Linked DNA regions of Homo sapiens. The protein of the gene in region 1 purifies or fractionates together with the protein of each later gene. This does not show direct contact. Each region holds a gene or a part of one and is shown in the gene's direction. Other genes may lie near its edges.

Evidence for each region.
Region 2: the proteins of SLC16A5 (region 1) and EMB purify together in Homo sapiens (affinity purification with mass spectrometry; one large-scale study listed by BioGRID and IntAct). This does not show direct contact.
Region 3: the proteins of SLC16A5 (region 1) and RFC1 purify together in Homo sapiens (affinity purification with mass spectrometry; one large-scale study listed by BioGRID and IntAct). This does not show direct contact.
Region 4: the proteins of SLC16A5 (region 1) and FN3KRP purify together in Homo sapiens (affinity purification with mass spectrometry; one large-scale study listed by BioGRID and IntAct). This does not show direct contact.
Region 5: the proteins of SLC16A5 (region 1) and TEX2 purify together in Homo sapiens (affinity purification with mass spectrometry; one large-scale study listed by BioGRID and IntAct). This does not show direct contact.

Annotation. Positions count from the first base shown.
Region 1 is NC_000017.11:75,097,941-75,101,459, forward strand, and holds part of SLC16A5 (monocarboxylate transporter 6), read left to right. Parts: intron 1-97; coding exon 98-241; intron 242-2,016; coding exon of another isoform or gene 2,017-2,066; coding exon 2,067-2,876; intron 2,877-3,519. UniProt on the Homo sapiens protein: Proton-linked monocarboxylate transporter.
Region 2 is NC_000005.10:50,396,289-50,399,807, reverse strand, and holds part of EMB (embigin precursor), read left to right. Parts: intron 1-517; coding exon 518-535; 3' UTR 536-3,519. UniProt on the Homo sapiens protein: Plays a role in the outgrowth of motoneurons and in the formation of neuromuscular junctions.
Region 3 is NC_000004.12:39,300,344-39,303,862, reverse strand, and holds part of RFC1 (replication factor C subunit 1), read left to right. Parts: intron 1-711; coding exon 712-803; intron 804-988; coding exon 989-1,126; intron 1,127-1,267; coding exon 1,268-1,363; intron 1,364-1,486; coding exon 1,487-1,585; intron 1,586-3,448; coding exon 3,449-3,519. UniProt on the Homo sapiens protein: Subunit of the replication factor C (RFC) complex which acts during elongation of primed DNA templates by DNA polymerases delta and epsilon, and is necessary for ATP-dependent loading of proliferating cell nuclear antigen (PCNA) onto primed DNA.
Region 4 is NC_000017.11:82,723,202-82,726,720, forward strand, and holds part of FN3KRP (ketosamine-3-kinase), read left to right. Parts: intron 1-3,278; coding exon 3,279-3,401; intron 3,402-3,519.
Region 5 is NC_000017.11:64,253,250-64,256,768, reverse strand, and holds part of TEX2 (testis-expressed protein 2), read left to right. Parts: intron 1-3,519. UniProt on the Homo sapiens protein: During endoplasmic reticulum (ER) stress or when cellular ceramide levels increase, may induce contacts between the ER and medial-Golgi complex to facilitate non-vesicular transport of ceramides from the ER to the Golgi complex where they are converted to complex sphingolipids, preventing toxic ceramide accumulation.

The DNA of each region.
Region 1 (3,519 bases):
TGGCTAGTTCCAGCTGGAACTGCCCTCTCCAGCCACTCTCCTCCTCTCCCGCCACCTCCTCATTCAGCTGCTACCTGCTGGCTGTCTTCTCCCACAGGGCCCCTGTGCAGCATCCTGGTGGGACGCTTCGGCTGCCGAGTGACCGTGATGCTGGGGGGCGTGCTGGCCAGCCTGGGCATGGTGGCCAGCTCCTTCTCTCACAACCTCAGCCAGCTCTACTTCACAGCAGGATTCATCACAGGTGACTATCACTTCATCTCCAGAATTTATAGGCACCTGCTAGAAAGTGCCAGGCACAAGTGGACAGGGCAGGCAGGCCTCTTAATCTTCTGGAACTGCTGGCTGGGTGCGGTGGCTCACACCTGTTATCCCAGCACTTTGGGAGGCTGAGGCGGGCAGATCACCTGAGGTCAGGGGTTCGAGACTAGCCCGGCCAACATGGTGAAACCCTGTCTATACTAAAAAAAATACAAAAATTAGCCAGGCTTGGTGGCGGGCCCCTGTAGTCCCAGCTACTCGAGGCTGAGGCAGGAGAATCGCCCGGGAAGTGGAGGTTGCAGTGAGCCAAGATCGCACCACTGTACTCCAGCCTGGGCAACAGAGCAAGACCCCATCTCAAAAACACAAAAAACAAAGTGCTGGGATTACAGGTGTGAGCCCATCATGCCCAGCCCTTTCACGGCATTTTGTTTTAAGGGGACTGGAGGAACAGACTATACCCAGAAGTGGTTATGAGGTCAAGACAGGCTTTTTTTGTTTGTTTGTTTGTTTGTTTTTAATGGGAGAAATAACGAAGGAGAAGGATCTAGGAAAGAAGAGAAAAAGGATGATGCAGGAGAGAGGGGACTTGCTAGAGGGGTGCCTCTGAGTGGAGAGGATGCAGGGCAGAAGGGAGGGACAGCCACTGGGGGAATGGGCAAGCCATTGTCACTGGCTAGCAGGCATGTGGGCAGCTGAGCATAAGGATAGGGAGGAGGTGTTGGGGGGCACAGAGGAAGACACCGGTAGTCACCTAGCAGGGCAGGCAAGGCATGATTGAGGGAGCTGTAGTGGCGTCACAGGCAGCCTGAGGGCCCGCCTGAGGCCACGGTCACACATGATTGAGAACTTTTTCTCCAGCATGCTCAGGTGTGCAGGTGCAGACACTGAGTGGGTGGGGAGCGGGGAAGGCCCCTCTGGAGAGGTGGCGTCTGAACTGAGAGGAGAGTGGAAAGTCTGGAGGAAGCAGATTCCAAGAAGGAACAGCAGCTACAAATAACCCGAGGTAGGGGCAGCTTCATGTCCAGAGGCAGAGAAAGAAGTTCCTGTGTCTTGATCCTAATGAGTGACAGGGAGCAGCCTGAGATGGCATCTGAGAGGCGGGCTGGAGCCGGACCACAGAGAGCCTTCCAGGGCATTGTGGAGACTGTGGATTTTTTGTCAAGTGTGATGGGAAGTCTTTGGAAGGTGTTAAGCCAAGAGAGACTTAATCCAATTTGGGGTTTGTTTGTTTTTGAGACAGAGTCTCACTCTGTTGCCCAGGCTGGAGTGCAGTGGCACAATCTCAGCTCACTGCAACCTCCACAACCTCAGCTCACTGCAACCTCCACTTCCCGGGTTCAAGTGATTCTCCTGACTCAGCCTCCTAGGTAGCTATTACAGACTACAGGCGCCTGCCACTAAGCCTGGCTAATTTTTTTGTATTTTTAGTAGAGATGGGGTTTCACCATGTTGGTCTCGAACTCCTGACCTCAAGTGATCCGCCAACCTTGGCCTCCCAAAGTGCTGGGATTACAGGCGTGAGCCACCGCGCTCGGCCCAATTTGGGTTTTTAAAAGATAACTCTCGTGCTACACCTAGGGGAACAGGGATGCCCTGGCAGCCTTGGGAGGGCAGATCTGGGGTGGGGTGCCTACAGGGAGGTGGCGAGGCCAGCTGATTCCATGGTCAGTCCCCAGGGACTTGGAGCTGGGTATGGACTAGAACCAGAGGAGGGCAGGTGTGTGAAATGACCACTGACCCCACCCCTGGGTGCAGGTGGAAGGCCCCAGTGCGCCTCCAGGCTGGTTTCCCCTCTTGCCCCGCAGGCCTGGGCATGTGCTTCAGCTTCCAGTCAAGCATCACGGTGCTGGGCTTCTACTTTGTCCGCCGGCGGGTGCTGGCCAACGCGCTGGCCTCGATGGGCGTCTCCCTGGGCATCACCCTCTGGCCGCTGCTCTCCCGCTACCTTCTGGAGAACCTGGGCTGGAGGGGTACCTTCCTTGTCTTCGGCGGGATCTTTCTCCACTGCTGCATCTGCGGGGCCATCATAAGGCCTGTGGCCACCAGTGTGGCCCCTGAGACCAAAGAATGTCCCCCGCCACCTCCCGAGACACCTGCACTTGGCTGCCTGGCTGCATGCGGCCGGACCATCCAGCGCCACCTGGCCTTCGACATCCTGCGGCACAACACAGGCTACTGCGTGTACATACTGGGTGTGATGTGGTCCGTCCTGGGCTTCCCACTGCCACAAGTCTTCCTGGTGCCATATGCCATGTGGCACAGCGTGGACGAGCAGCAGGCAGCCCTCCTCATCTCCATCATCGGCTTCAGCAACATCTTCCTGAGGCCCCTAGCCGGGCTGATGGCAGGACGGCCGGCCTTTGCTAGCCACCGCAAGTACCTGTTCAGCCTGGCACTCCTGCTCAATGGGCTCACTAACCTGGTGTGTGCGGCATCAGGTGACTTCTGGGTGCTCGTGGGCTACTGCCTGGCGTACAGCGTGTCCATGAGTGGCATCGGCGCCCTCATCTTCCAGGTTCTCATGGACATCGTCCCCATGGATCAGTTCCCCAGAGCCCTGGGACTCTTCACTGTCCTGGACGGCCTTGCTTTCCTCATCTCCCCACCACTGGCCGGTGAGGAGCTGGGAGGGAGGGCAGCCAGATAGTGTGGTAAAAGGGGAACAGTTTAGACAGATCTGGGCCCAGTCCAGCATCTCCAGAGGTTGTGCTACAGCTGGTTTCCAACCTGGCACTCAGAGTATGAACAGTTAAAAACATGGGTTTGGCCCGGCGCGGTGGCTCATGCCTGTAATCCCAGCACTTTGGGAGGCCGGGGCGGGCAGATCATGAGGTCAGGAGATCGAGACCATCCTGGCCAACATGGTGAAACCCCGTCTCTACTAAAAATACAAAAAAATTAGTTGGGCGTTGTGATGGGCGCCTGTAGTCCCAGCTACTCGGGAGGCTGAGGCAGGAGAATGGCATGAACACAGGAGGCAGAGCTTGCAGTGAGCTGAGATTGCGCCACTGCACTCCAGGCTGGGCAACAAAGCGAGACTCCGCCTCAAAAAGAAAAAAAAAAAAGCATGGGTTTGTGACCAGGTGCGGTGGCTCACGCCTGTAATCCCAGCACTTTGGGAGGCTGAGGCGGGTGGATCACGAGGTCAGGAGATCGAGACCAACATGGCTAACGTGGTGAAACCCCATCTCTACTAAAAATACAAAAAAATTAGCTGGGTGTGGTGGCGGGCACCTGTAAATCCCAGCTACTTGGGAG
Region 2 (3,519 bases), on another chromosome or scaffold:
TAGGCTATCTATCAATCAGTTACTTTTTTTTAGTTCCATAAAAGATCTGGTCATTTATGATGTGCTCAAATATGCTTGTTAACACTATTATAGGGGAAAATATACAGTATAGTTATACAAAAATAAATCATTTTCCACCAGAGGGCACATAGCAACTAATCTAGAAGTAAATCTTTTGCACTGGCTACATATTTTATTTTATCACCACGGACTAGTTTCTTTTACAATTTTTCATGTAGCTTTATTTGTTTTCCTCTAAAATTTTCTGGATTTTCTGTTATTTTAGTTTCATTTATTCCCATATATTTGGGGGTATAAACTTATGCATATAAGCTAACTTTCTTTGCTGATTAGATTCAAAATTTTTAGTTCATCAACATTAGAGTAGGAGCTCTGTTTTGGCAGTAGATTGGATCCCTCACTTCCCAGTATTTTTTGCTTTGCTAAAGTGATAGTAAGTTACTATAAAATAACCAGAACATACTAATTATATTTGATTATGCTTTATTTAACTCAGGAGTCTCTGGGCCAGTGAATACAAAACATCATGTCGAGAATCATTGGAAGATATACAGAGTTCGTATTTCAGCTTTGTTTATCCTTCCTGTTAAGAGCCTCTGAGTTTTTAGTTTTAAAAGGATGAAAAGCTTATGCAACATGCTCAGCAGGAGCTTCATCAACGATATATGTCAGATCTAAAGGTATATTTTCATTCTGTAATTATGTTACATAAAAGCAATGTAAATCAGAATAAATATGTTAGACCAGAATAAAATTAATTATATTCTGGTCTTCAAAGGACACACAGAACAGATATCAGCAGAATCACTTAATACTTCATAGAACAAAAATCACTCAAAACCTGTTTATAACCAAAGAATTCATGAAAAAGAAAGCCTTTGCCATTTGTCTTAGAAAGTTATTTTTTAAAAAAAAATCATACTTACTATTAGTATCTATGGAAGTATATGTAACAATTTTTATGTAAAGGTCATCTTTCTGTGATAGTGAAAAAATATGTCTTTACTAAGTTGAAATGAATACTTTCTGCCTTTGCTAATGATAGTTATTCTACAATCTCCACAAGAAAAATATACCTTTTATCCGGAAATATTGGTTTAAGGCAAATAAATAAAACTGTGCTTGCTCTAAAGCTCTGCACTACAAAAGCAAATTTTCCAGTCTTTATTCCACTCATAACCACTGCTTTCCCCACCAGGCTAAAGTGCTTCTTAGTCTTAAATAGGGTTTTTAACTTCATAAGGTACACCATTGTTTATGTTTTAGGGTGCAGGTCCATATAGTCGTAATACTTAAAACACTGCTACACTGATGCTTTTGTGGCTCATGGTTTCCTGGTTCTTTGATTTAACACCTGGCTTCCTGGTATCTATGGCTGGTTAAATATCTAAACCTGCATTATTAGTGCTTTACAATAATAATTCCCTTGACTGAAGTCCAGAAATACTAAAGCACTTCTTTTTTATTGCTGTGAATGCCTTAGACTTATCTTCCAAAATAGGATACTTCGTTTCTATTGCATATATAACTGAAATATTTTATAAACTCACTGTAATCAAATCTTATAAAATCTGAATCAACATGAAAAGTTGTCAATGCTTGAATGAATACTAAAATCATACCACAAGATACTAGATAACATAAATGACCATGAAGTGTCCCACTGCTCAAAGGGCAACAACTTTAAGAACAGAAGCAAAGAGTGGTGGTGTGGAACCCAAGATTCTTGGCGACTAGGGAATTTAAAGGTTGGGGAGGAGGAATTCAATGATTTGACAAGAAATACTTTATAAAAATTTGCTCCATGTATTGGCTAAGAAAAATATAATAAAATTTTGGTAGTGAAAATTGTATCACTAATGTTTACCAATATTACTAGTATGAATAATACACATAAGGTAGTGACTTGGAAGCTGCTCAATACTTTGTTGCTATAACAAAATGCAATATTTTGTTGTAAAGCATCTTAACTACACATATAAGTTTGCTGAACTTGAATACATCCCGGTAATGGCAAACTTCATTTTATTCTTGGTTTTCATTTTATTCTGGTCTCAGGGCCATACATTTATTTTAGTTTAATTAATTATTATTTTGACAACATTACTTGGGTAATATCTATATAATGGTAGATAACCAATCAGTTAGCTTAATTAATCTAAGCTATTTGAATTCAGGGAAATATTAGTCAAATCTGCTGTTTGACTAAATACAATTCAAAGCAGTGTATTTGTGACTTGGAATATAGAACACAAACAAATGTGTAACCCATCTGCAGTATGCATTCTTCCATTTTACCACCACTAACCATTGAGGCTCATACAATTTTCAAGCAACAAGCATTGCTTCCCAAAGGTAAAATAATCAGGAATATTTCTATAGTAAATGGAGTTTTTAATTGGCAATACTGTTTATTTTTTTCTAGCAAAGACAATTTATCTCAGTAACCTTAAATAGGAAAAGTACTCAAAAATTAAAGTTGACTTTTGGCTTTTTGTAGTCTCTCTGGAGGACTTCCAGAAAATTACCACTGTTGGATTTTAATCTGCTTCCATTAACCAATCTTACAGAGATGATAAATGAATTAACTAATATTGACCAAATATAAATTGACTGCAAATAATAAGCCGCATAAAAGTTGAAGTAGGAAAACTACTCCAAGTTTATATATTAGGCACCTTGGGGAATTCTCTTAGTCTTTCCAGCTAACAAGGATTTTCAGCATAATAAGTAGATTTAATGATGGCATAAAATTCCCAGATACTTTCATATACATTTTTTGCCAAAGTGTAAATCTTCTCCTTTTGCAGTCTTTTTGTTATTATCCCAACATCTAGCTGCTCAGGCCCTAATTTAGAACTCATTCTGATATTTTCTTCTTCTGTATTAATTAATACTTATGGGTCATGAATCCCTGCTCCTTTGACCTTTTTAATAGCTCATGAATCCATCCCATTGCCTCCCCAACTCTGCCCACACCTGCTGCAACACTAATGCCTTGATTTTCCTACCTCAGTCTCCTTTTCTATTAATCCCTCTTTTGCGTGGCTGCCTGAGTCCACTTTCTCAAACACAAACCTCACTATGCAACTTTGGAATCTCTGTAGGCTCACCTTTGCCATTTCTTAATATTGCATTCTCCAAATTGCTAATCTCTATCCAGTCTCTTGAACTAGACTTGGCACATGGAGATTCCGCTCAGAAAGTGCTCTTCACACTTCTACCTGCTTGACTAACCCCAGATTATCTTTCAAGACTTTAATCTGATCTTGTGTCTTAGAGAAGCCCCCATACCTGGTAGAGCATGTACCATCTTACATGCTTAAATAACTCCACATTTATTTGTGTTTATTACTCTGTGTTATAAATATACATTTGTTGGTCTCTCTCTTGGATTATTTTGTTTCTTTGTCCTGTAACTACCACTGAAAGGGTGCAATACAGCTTTCTTGAAATGTGTATTGAACGGATGAATGTATAAATAAAAATTAAATTTTG
Region 3 (3,519 bases), on another chromosome or scaffold:
AGTGTGTGATACAAGTGTAGAATGGAGTATTAAATTGCCTTAAAAAATGAAGTGTTCTGTATCTGTAAGATAAAGAATGAATCACCAAAATACATAAAATGACAAAACTGGCTGGGCATGTTGGCTCACGCCTGTAATCCCAGCACTTTGGGAGGCTGAGGCGGACAGATCACCTGAGGTCAGGAGTTTGAGACCAGCCTGGTCAACATGGTGAAACACCGTCTCTACTAAAAATACAAAAATTAGCTGGGTGTGGTGGCGTGCGCCTGTAATCTCAGCTACTTGGGAGGCTGAGGCAAAAGAATTGCTTGAACCCGGGAGGCGGAGGTTGCAGTGAGCCAATATCGTGCCATTGCACTCCAGCTTGGGCAACGAGTGAAACTCTGTCTCAAAAAAAAAAAAATTCAAAACTCAGTTGTATATTTTTATGCACATATGTGTACAATATCTCTTAAAGGACATATAAGAGACTGTTGTTTGCCTCTGGGAAGGGAATTGGGGTCTGCAGGGGAAGGGGTGGCAGGGAGAGTTTCTCTTCTCTGCATATTCTTTTTTTTTTTTTTTCTTTAACAACACTCTGTAGTCCAGTGCTGCATATTCTTGTAGCTTTTGAAGTTTAATATCTGTTACATAATTTTCTACAGAGCAGCAGTTTTTGAGCAATTGTTATTTTGTTTTTGTCTCATCCCATTGCTCCTCAACCTGGGTCAGATGGAGCAGCCTCTTCAGTAAGCACGAAACATGCTCTCATCATGGATGAAGTAGATGGCATGGCAGGCAATGAGGATAGGGGAGGAATTCAGGTAATTCAAGTGCTGTATTTTTGCAGTTTCACTGTTGATAATTTAGATTGTTAGAACATTGTCATTCTCTCATACTTAGGGCAGTTAAGGCATGTTGCTGAGGAGATTTTTAGAACCTAAAATAGCTTGTGTGGTATTTGTCATTTTTAAAATAATTATTTTTGTGTTGCAAACTTGCCTTTCAGGAATTAATTGGCCTGATAAAACATACTAAAATTCCCATTATTTGTATGTGCAATGATAGAAATCATCCCAAGATTCGCTCTCTGGTTCATTATTGTTTTGATCTTCGTTTTCAAAGACCTCGGGTTGAACAGATTAAGGTATGATGATTGAAATTTTTTTTCCATCACACTAGCCTATTTATTTAAGGGTCAATTTTTAAAAGTACCTGATAAATATTTTTAAAATACCTGATTATATGAGTTAAAAATCATTGAGGACTCCTCCCTTGTCAATTTCAGGGTGCTATGATGTCTATTGCATTTAAAGAAGGTTTAAAGATTCCCCCTCCAGCTATGAATGAAATAATTTTGGGAGCCAATCAAGATATCAGACAGGTAAATTAAATATATATCATGTAACAGTTGTTGATTATTTTTAACTAATGCTTTCAACCTTGTAGGGATGGGGAGCAACAGGATTTTCCTATCTTGACGTTGTCTTATTTGTGATTCTTTTAGGTTTTACATAATCTGAGTATGTGGTGTGCACGAAGTAAAGCATTAACCTATGACCAGGCCAAAGCTGATTCTCACAGAGCCAAAAAGGATATCAAAATGGTAAAATAAATGTCCATGTCTTAGTTACTTTCCTAAGCCAAAACACTTCTTGTTCTGTAGGTAGCTTGATAGAAGTAGTTATTATAGTTCCTTGGTATGCCTGTGGAATCCAGGGATATATAGTAGGAAGTATAGACAGCTGCTGAAAGTGTTTCTAATTCAAATGATTTTTTTCTCAAAGATTGTCAATGTCAATTATAAATTTTGAGAAAGGGATAAATTTTAAATTATACTTATGCTTCAACAATTATAAAATGGCTTTTCCAGAGTTCTTTATGTTTGGCTTTCGTGTTTGGAATGGTTTTGCACTGTTCAGAATAATCCATGTCAAATGGTTTAGTTTAATGACCTCTCTGAAACTAGAGGTATGTATCAGTTTCCTCTGTGTTGTATTTTACCTAGTTGCTAATCAGAATTTATAGTTAGAGCAATGATTAAGCAGGTTCTAAAAAAGTTAATACACTTTCTTATTTATTTAAATTTTCAAAATTTTTGGTAGAGACAGGGTCTCGCTATGTTTCCCCGACTGGTCTTGAATTCCTGGCCTCAAGTGATCCTCCTGCTGTGGCCCCCAAGGTGCCGGGATTATAGGTGTGAGCCACCACGTCTGGCCTATACGCTTTATTTTTTAGAGCAGTTGAGGCTCAGGAGTTTGAGACCAGCCTGGCCAACATGGTGATCCATGCCTGGCCTATGGATTAAAAATGGAGTGGAAGGTACAGAGAGTTCTCACATACTTCATGTCCCCCTCACACGCACAGCCTCTCCCACTGCCAACATCCCCCACCACAGTGGTATATCTGTTACAATCGATGAACCTACAGTGATACCTCATTATCACCCAGAGTCCGTAGTTGACATTAGCATTCCCTCTTGGTGTTGTACGTTGTGTGGTTTTGACAAATGACATGTATTCACCATTGTAGTATCATACAGAATAGTTTCACTGTCCTGAACATCCTCTGTGCTCTACCTGTTCATTCTTCCTTTCCGCTTTCCTCCCTACAACCCCTGGCAGCCACTGATCCTTTCACTGTGTCCATAGTTTTGCCTTTTCCAGAATGTGGTATAGTTGGAATCATGTAGTATGTGGACTTTTCCAGTTGGCTTTTTTCACGTAGTAATGGCATATAAGGTTCTTCCATAACTTTTTTGTTTTTGTTTTTGTTTTTTTTGGTTTTTTTTTTTTCGGAGTCTTGCTTTGTCACCCAGGCTGGAGTACAGTGGTGTGATCTTGGCACACTGTAGCCTCTGCCTCCCGGGTTCATGTGATTCTCTTGCCTCAGGCTTCTGAGTAGCTCGGGTTACAGGCACCTGCCACCACACCTGGCCAATTTTTTATTTTTAGTAGAGACGAGGTTTTACTATGTTGGCCAGGCTGGTCTCGAACTCCTGACCTCAAGTGATCCGCCCACCTCAGCCTCCCAAAGTGCTCGGATTACAGGGGTGAGCCACCATGCCCTGCCCCCCCATGTCTTTTCATGGCTTGATAGCTCACTTCTTTTTAATGTTGAATAATATTACATTGTGTGAATGTACCACAGTTAAATTGTTTATTTACCTACTAAAAGGACATCTTGGTTGCTTACAACTTTTGGTAATTATAAATAAAACTGCTTGTAAACATCCTGTGCAGATTTTTGTGTGAACATAGTTTCATTTGGGTGAATACCAAGAAGCGTGGTTGCTGGATCGCGTGGTAAGAGTATGTTTAATTTTGTAAGAAACTACCAAACGGTACAGTTTTGCATTCCCACCAGCAATGAATGGAATTCCTCTTGTTCCATATCCTCGTTAGCATTTGGTGATGTTACCGTTTTGAATTTTGGCCATTCTAATAGGTGTGTCCCTCTCTTTTTTCAGGGCCCATTTGATGTTGCCCGGAAAGTGTTTGCAGCTGGAGAGGAGACTGCTCACATGTCACTTGTGGACAA
Region 4 (3,519 bases), 7.6 Mb from region 1:
TGTGATTTTATGGTGGCTTCCCTCCGCATTTCCACCTGGGGAGTTCTGCTTGACGCCCAGCACATGTGCAGTGGACAGGGCTCCTGTCCTGTCCTCGAGAGGAGGGTACAGATGAACCCAGAAAACTTGCCAGGGTTTCCTGGCGGGCGCGGGGGCAGTAGAAAGACTTTGAAATGTTGAAGTTTGTTCAGAAACCTGCTTAGGGGCGGGGAGTGGTGCCCTCTGGTCCTGCCTGCTGGCGGGGGGTGGGGGGTTTTCGCCAGCTCCGCCCCTTCGTCTCGTGGCTGTACTCACAGTGTGTGTGTGCATGTGTGTGTGTGCATATGTGTATTTGTGTGCACGCACGTCTGTGCGCATATGTGTATGTGTGTGCATGTGTGTGCATATGTGTGCATGTGTATGTGCACGCATGTGTGCATATGTGTATGTGTGCACACGTGTGTGCATGTGTGTACGCGTGTGCGCGCACATGTATGTGTGCAGGCGTGTGTGCGCATGACTGTGTGCCTGATGCATGATGTTGGCGTCGTGTGCTACTCCAGTCGTGTGTGTCTGTCTTGCTTCCCTCCTGGGTGGTAAGCACCTGTGACCTGGATGTCCTTTCTCGGGGTCCTTCTCAATGGGGCTCCATGTGACTTTTCCTGTCATCACTGTCTGGGGAGGGGCTGTCTGGACAGATGTCAGAAGTGAGCCATGGGGTTGGGGCAGGTCAGCCAGCTCTGGCCTCAGTACTCCAGTGTGATTGTAAATTAAGAGGAAATGTTAGCCAGTTGCTTTAGCAGCAAAAAAAAAATTTTTTTTTTTAAATAAAAAAGCCCTGGTGGTTCATGCCTGTAATTCCAGCACTTTGGGAGGCCGAGGTGGGAGGATTGCTTGAGCCCAGCAGTTCGAGACCAGCCTGGCCAACATGGTGAAACCCTCTCTCTAGTAAAAATACAAAAAATTAGCAGGGTGTGGTGGTGCGTGCCTGTAGTTCCAGCCACTTGGAAGGCTGAGGTGGGAGGATTGCTTAAGCCTGGGAATTGAAGGCTGCAGTGAGCTGTGATTGCACCACTGCACTCCAGCTTGGGTAATGGAGCAAGACCTTGTTTCACAAAGATGAAAAAGAAAGAAAATGTTCTGGACCGGGCACGGTGGCTCACGCCTGTAATCTCAGCACTTTGGGAGGCCGAGGCGGGCAGATCACGTGAGGTAGAGTTTGAGACCAGCCTGACCAACATGGTGAAATCCTGTCTCTACTAAAAATACAAAAATTAGCCGGGCATGGTGGTGCGCACCTGTAATCCCAGCTACTCTGGGGGCTGAGGCAGGAGAATCGCTTGAACCCGGGAGACAGAGATTGCAGTGAGCTGAAATCACGCCATTGCACTCCAGCCTGGGTGACAAGAGTGAAACTTCATCTCAAAAAAGAAAAAAAAAAAGTAAAAAGTAAACTAAAAGGTAGTACAGTCAGATATCTTCTGTTACATATGGAACCTGTAAAGGCCAAAAGTGTGCTGCATGTGTGCCAACCAGAGCACGAGGGAGCAGGCCCCATGGCACCCTGTGATGTGAGTGTGACTTGGGACAACGATCTTTATGGGCAGCAACGTGGCAATGCCTATCAAAAAAAAAATTTTTTTTTTGAGATGGAGTCTCGCTCTGTCACCCAGGCTGGAGTGCAGTGGTGCGATCTTGGCTCACTGCAAGTTCCGCCTCCCAGGTTCACGCCATTCTTCTGCCTCAGCCTCCTGAGTAGCTGGGACTACAGGTGCCTGTCACCATGCCCGGCTAATTTTTTTTTGTATTTTTAGTAGAGATGGGGTTCCACCGTGTTAGCCAGGACAGTCTCAATCTCCTGGCCTTGTGATCTGCTTGCCTCAACCTCCCAAGGTGCTGGGATTACAGGCATGAGCCACCGTGCCTGGCCAAAAATTTAAAATTTAGTTTTAATTTTAATTTTAAAAGATAGAGTCTCTCTCTGTTGCCCAGGCTGGAGAGCAGTGGCATGATCATAGCTCACTGCAGCCTCAAACTTTCTGGGCTCAAGCCATCCTCCTGCCCCAGCCTCCCATGTAGCTGGGACTACAGGCATACACCACCACACTTGGCTAATTTTTTAATTTTTTTTGTAGAGACAGGGGTCTCACTATGTTGCCCAGGCTGGTCTCAAACTCCTGGGCTCAAGTGATCCTCCCACCTCAGCCACGCAAAATGCTGGGATTACAGATATTGCTCACCACTCCCAGCCCCCTTTCAAATTTTTTAATTTATTTAATTTATTTTTTTGAAATGGAGTCTCGCTGTCACCCAGGCTAGAGTGCAGTGGTGCGATCTTGGCTCACTGCAACCTCCAGCTTCCGGGTTCAATCAGTTCTCCTGCCTCAGCCTCCTGTGTGACTGGGATTACAGGCGCCCACCACCACGTCCGGCTAATTTTTGTATTTTTAGTACAAGCATGAGCCACCACACCTGGCCCCCCTTTCAAAATTTTAAATGGACTTATGCTCTGACCCAGTAATTATCCTTTAGGATTTATTCTACAGGCATATTTACACGTATGCAAAATGGCACAGACACAAGGGTATTTGCTGTGCCACTCTTGGTACTATGACAAGGAAAATCCAGAGGAGCACTGGGTGAAGTCCTGGTGCATCATCTGATGAACTATTGTCAGCTGCTACAAAACAACGTAAAGAAAGTGGGAGCAGGGCCAGGTGCAGTGGCCCACGCCCGCCCGTAATCCCAGCACTTTGAGAGGCTGAAGCGGGCAGATCACCTGAGGTCAGGAGTTTGAGACCAGCCTGACCAACATGGCGAAACCCCGTCTCTACTAAAAATACAAAAAAATTAGCCGGGCGTGGTGGTGCATGCTTGTAATCCCAGCTACTTGGGAGGCTGAGGCAGGAGAATTGCTTGAACCCGGGAGGCAGAGGTTGCAGTGAGCCGAGATGGCGCCACTGCACTCCAGCCTGGGCAATGAGAGCGAAACTCTATCTCAGAAAAAAGAAAAAGAAAAAAAAATGTTCTAGAAGCCTTCATTCTTGGAAGGCTACAGAGTGGGTCCTGAAGCATCCCCATGCTTCCCACTGCTCTTGGGATAGGATCTGAGGTCTCAGCATGTCCATGAGACTCCGGTTCCTCCTGGGATGTGGTTCCCCCCTCAGGCTCCTGTGACTGCCACCCCTCCCACGTGCCGCTCCTGCAGCCCTCTCCACTTTGAGATGCTTGTGGGTAGCTGAGCTCTCCCTTGGTTCTGGCATTTTCCAGTGAACTGTGCTTTTGCTGTTACTGTGCAGGTGAATGACTGGCAGGAGGACTGGGTCGTGTTCTATGCCCGGCAGCGCATTCAGCCCCAGATGGACATGGTGGAGAAGGAGTCTGGGGACAGGGAGGCCCTCCAGCTTTGGTCTGCTCTGCAGGTGAGTGGGGCCCCACTGCATGCCCAGCACCTGCCACACACCCCACTTGCCTGAGGTAGGGGAGGCACCAAGGCAGGTGAGGCCACCTCTGAGTCTGATTCTGGGTGGGAAGCGGGTG
Region 5 (3,519 bases), about 11 Mb from region 1:
GAGCATCTACCAGGGCCAAGCATTGTGCTTGGCATTGGAAATCTGATGGGGAGCAAAACAGATGTGGTTCCTTCCTGCACAAAGCACATTATCTAGTCTAGACAACAAACAAGTCAATAGACATATGCATCATATATATTGGATTGTAATATGTGTAAAATCTCCTTCCTCTGAAGGAAAAGAACAGGGCACCAAGAAAGAAAGAAAAGGAAGAAACCAGCAACTGGGGGTCTTGGGCAGAGCATTTCAAGAGAGAGAGCAACGTGGATGTCTGGCTGCTGTGCAGAGGGGCAGAGAGGGGAATATGGGAAGGGCAGGCTCAGAAGGTGCCATTCTGCAGAGGACATGTCACAAGGCAGCATAGTGTAGCAGGGAGAGCAGAAGCTTGGGAACCAGACACTGCTCAAGGGGCCTCGGGAAGTTTCTTAACCTCTTTTGCCTCACTTTCCCACCTCCAAGATGCTATGAGGGTTGAATGAGCCTTGAGAGCCATGCCTGGCATGTACAGAAAGGACTGTGGGTAGGGTTTGCTGACTCTCAGGGCTGTGGGGAACTTGATTTCGAGTGGATGAGCTTCTCTTCCTAGTCAGCATTTCCCATGATTCCATGTGTAGCGTAACCATAGGGCAGAAGGTAAAACTAAGACAGCTGAGTAGGTGTATCCATGGAGGCATTCTAAGGTAGATTATGTTGGACTTTCTGTGGTGTGCTAAGCATTCAGCACCCGTACCTGGGAGACTTGGCCCTACCTGTAGGCATCTCTGCAGTGGGTGCAGTCCTGAGTGTGGAGCAAGGTGGACCGGAAGCAGCTGTTCCTCTGCTCTTGCCTGCAGTTGTTTGCTTTAGTGTTTGGATGCGGGCAGATCTTTCACCTTTTTTCCTGATAAGAGGAGACAGAGACTACTGGCCTTACAGCCAGGTGGTCAAACATGACAACTCGGAGTTGCTGTGTGCAAAACCTGCCTGAACCCCATCTCCAGCGAGATTTGATGATGTTTCCCCATTCAAAGGAACAACCACGCCTCAGGACCATACAAGGAGAGGACTTCATGAAACAGGTCACTGGCTTGGGATAGTCAATAAAGTGCTATGAACCCAGCCATATTTAAGTTATAGTTATCTTGTAAAGTATGTGTGAGGCCTCATCAAATTTGTATATAATTGACTAAGTTTTTCAAAATATCTTTTGCTCTGGAATTTTAAAAAACATACACAAAAGTGAAGAATAATATAATGGATATCAGGCATCTATTACTCAATTTTGATAATTATCAACTTTTGCTAATCTTGTTCCAAGATAGTTCCACAATGAAGCATTGTTGGTGGATTTTCTGTCACAGTATAAATGTGTCTTTGGACTATAAAATCATTTGGTAGATATTCTAGAGAAAAAAATGCCTGCACACTGCATAATTATAGGGCTGGTGTTAGGTAGTTGAAATTCAGAATCTGAAATGAACATTTAGTGGAAACCTCTTACAGACTTGTGTATGAGAAGTAGGCATATAAAATTAAGAGTGCTTTCAAGATGACCAGTTAGTCTATGTATTTACTAAGTAGCAACTGTACTGGGCAGTGTGCAAGGTACATTTTTTTTTTTTAAAGGCCAGGTGCTGTGGCTTATGTCTGCAATCCCAGCACTTTGGGAGACCGAAGTGGAGGATCACTTGAGGCCAAGAGTTTGAGACCAGCCTAGGCAACATAGTGAGACCCTGCCTCTACAAAAAAAAAAAAAAAAAAGCCAGATGCAGTGACACACACCTGTAGTCCTAGCTACTTGGCAGGCTGAGCTGGGAGGAGGATTGCTTAAGCCTGGGAATTCAAGGCTGCTGTGAGCCATGATGGCACCACTGCACCACAGCGTTGGTGACAGAATAAGACCCTGTATCTAAAAATCAAACAAACAAAAAAGGACAGTGTTTGTCCACAGTGGCTCATAAAATTATGAGCCCATGATGAAGTCACAGGTTATTTTCAAACATTCTTAGCAAATGAATTTTACACAAAGCCCAAACTGTGAAACTGATTAAGAAGCAGTATTTTAGTGGCATATGTTACTTTAAGTTCAATTTATAGTATTCACTTGTAGCATGAAACAGGACACAAGTTAATATGTCGAAAGTTTCTATATGTTGAATTTCATTTTTATTTTTTAAAGGGGAAATTCACATCAAACATGCAAACAACCCTGTAGCAGTGCCTCTGTGCATCATGGTACAACAGACCATTAAACATTTGAAAGGTGGTTAGTGCAACTGAGAATTGGAAGCTTTAATTTTAATTAAGCTGAAACCGAAGCTTTAATTTTAATTTAAATAGTTCCATGTGCCCATATTGGACAGTATAGCTCCAGGGTTTATTAAACCACCATTCCTGGTGATAGGATAGAGCCCAGCACAAACTAATCTGGGCAACAAATCAAAGGGCACAAGTCGCATGTAGGTTCCAAACTCAGTACATTTTAGAGAAAAGGAGTTTGATTATGTAGTAGAAGGAAGAACTGCCTGGTGGGACTCATGATCTTCCTTTAAGAGCAAGGCTCAAAGACCTGGGGAGTTTTGATTTGATGCTATGATGTCTCCTGGGGCTCAGAATATTATGAAATGAGGAGTGAATCTCTGAGTGAAAAGAACTCAAGCTGCTTGTTGCATTGCGGAATGTCTCTAAGAGGTAGAGAGGCGTCTGTTAAGTGGCTTGTATGAAGGTTTCAGAAGGTAAGATGAGCCCCAGCTTTGGGAGTTGTGTTTGCTGCCAGGAGGGTTTAGAGGCTGCCTCTAGGCAACACCCAGGGGCTCAAAGAAGACAGACGCAGAGAGCATGAGCTGCTGGTCACCTCTCTATCCCCAGAGCATCGTAGATGCTTGATAAATGTGTTAAAAATGGATGACAGTTTCAGGAATAGATTTAGGAGTAAATAAGAGATGGGCTTGAAATTTTTCTAGAAATTCTGAAAAATAGGTGCCGAGGGAAGTGCAGTGCCAGTGAGCTGCAGAGTTTGTTCAGCCTGTGCTTTCTGCCAGAGGTAATTGACATTTCTCCTCACTACGAATGCAAGCTCGACCTCCCTCCTTTCGCCCTTATCTAGTCCTGCACCAAATACTGCTGATTTTTATCTTATAAACGACTCTTGGATGGTTCTTTTCTCTGAAGCTTCTCTGCCACTGTTCTAGTTTGGTGCAAACAACCATCTTTTTGCTTGGAATACTCCAGCAGCCCCTCACTGACCTGCCCTCATCTACCTCTACTCCTTTCTAATCTCTTCACCTCTCAGCAGTCTGAGTGGTCTTTAAAAAATTCCTATCATGGCCGGGCATGGTGGCTCACACCTGTAATCTCAACACTTGGGGAGGCTGAGGTGGGAGGACTGCCTGAGCCCAGGAGTTCGACACCAGCCTGGGCAACATAGTGAGACCCTGTCTACAAAAAAAAAAAAAAGAAAGAAAGAAAGAAGGAAAAATTAAAATTAGCTGGGTTTGGTGGCCTGTGCCTGTGGTCCCAATTACTCGGGAGACTGAGGTG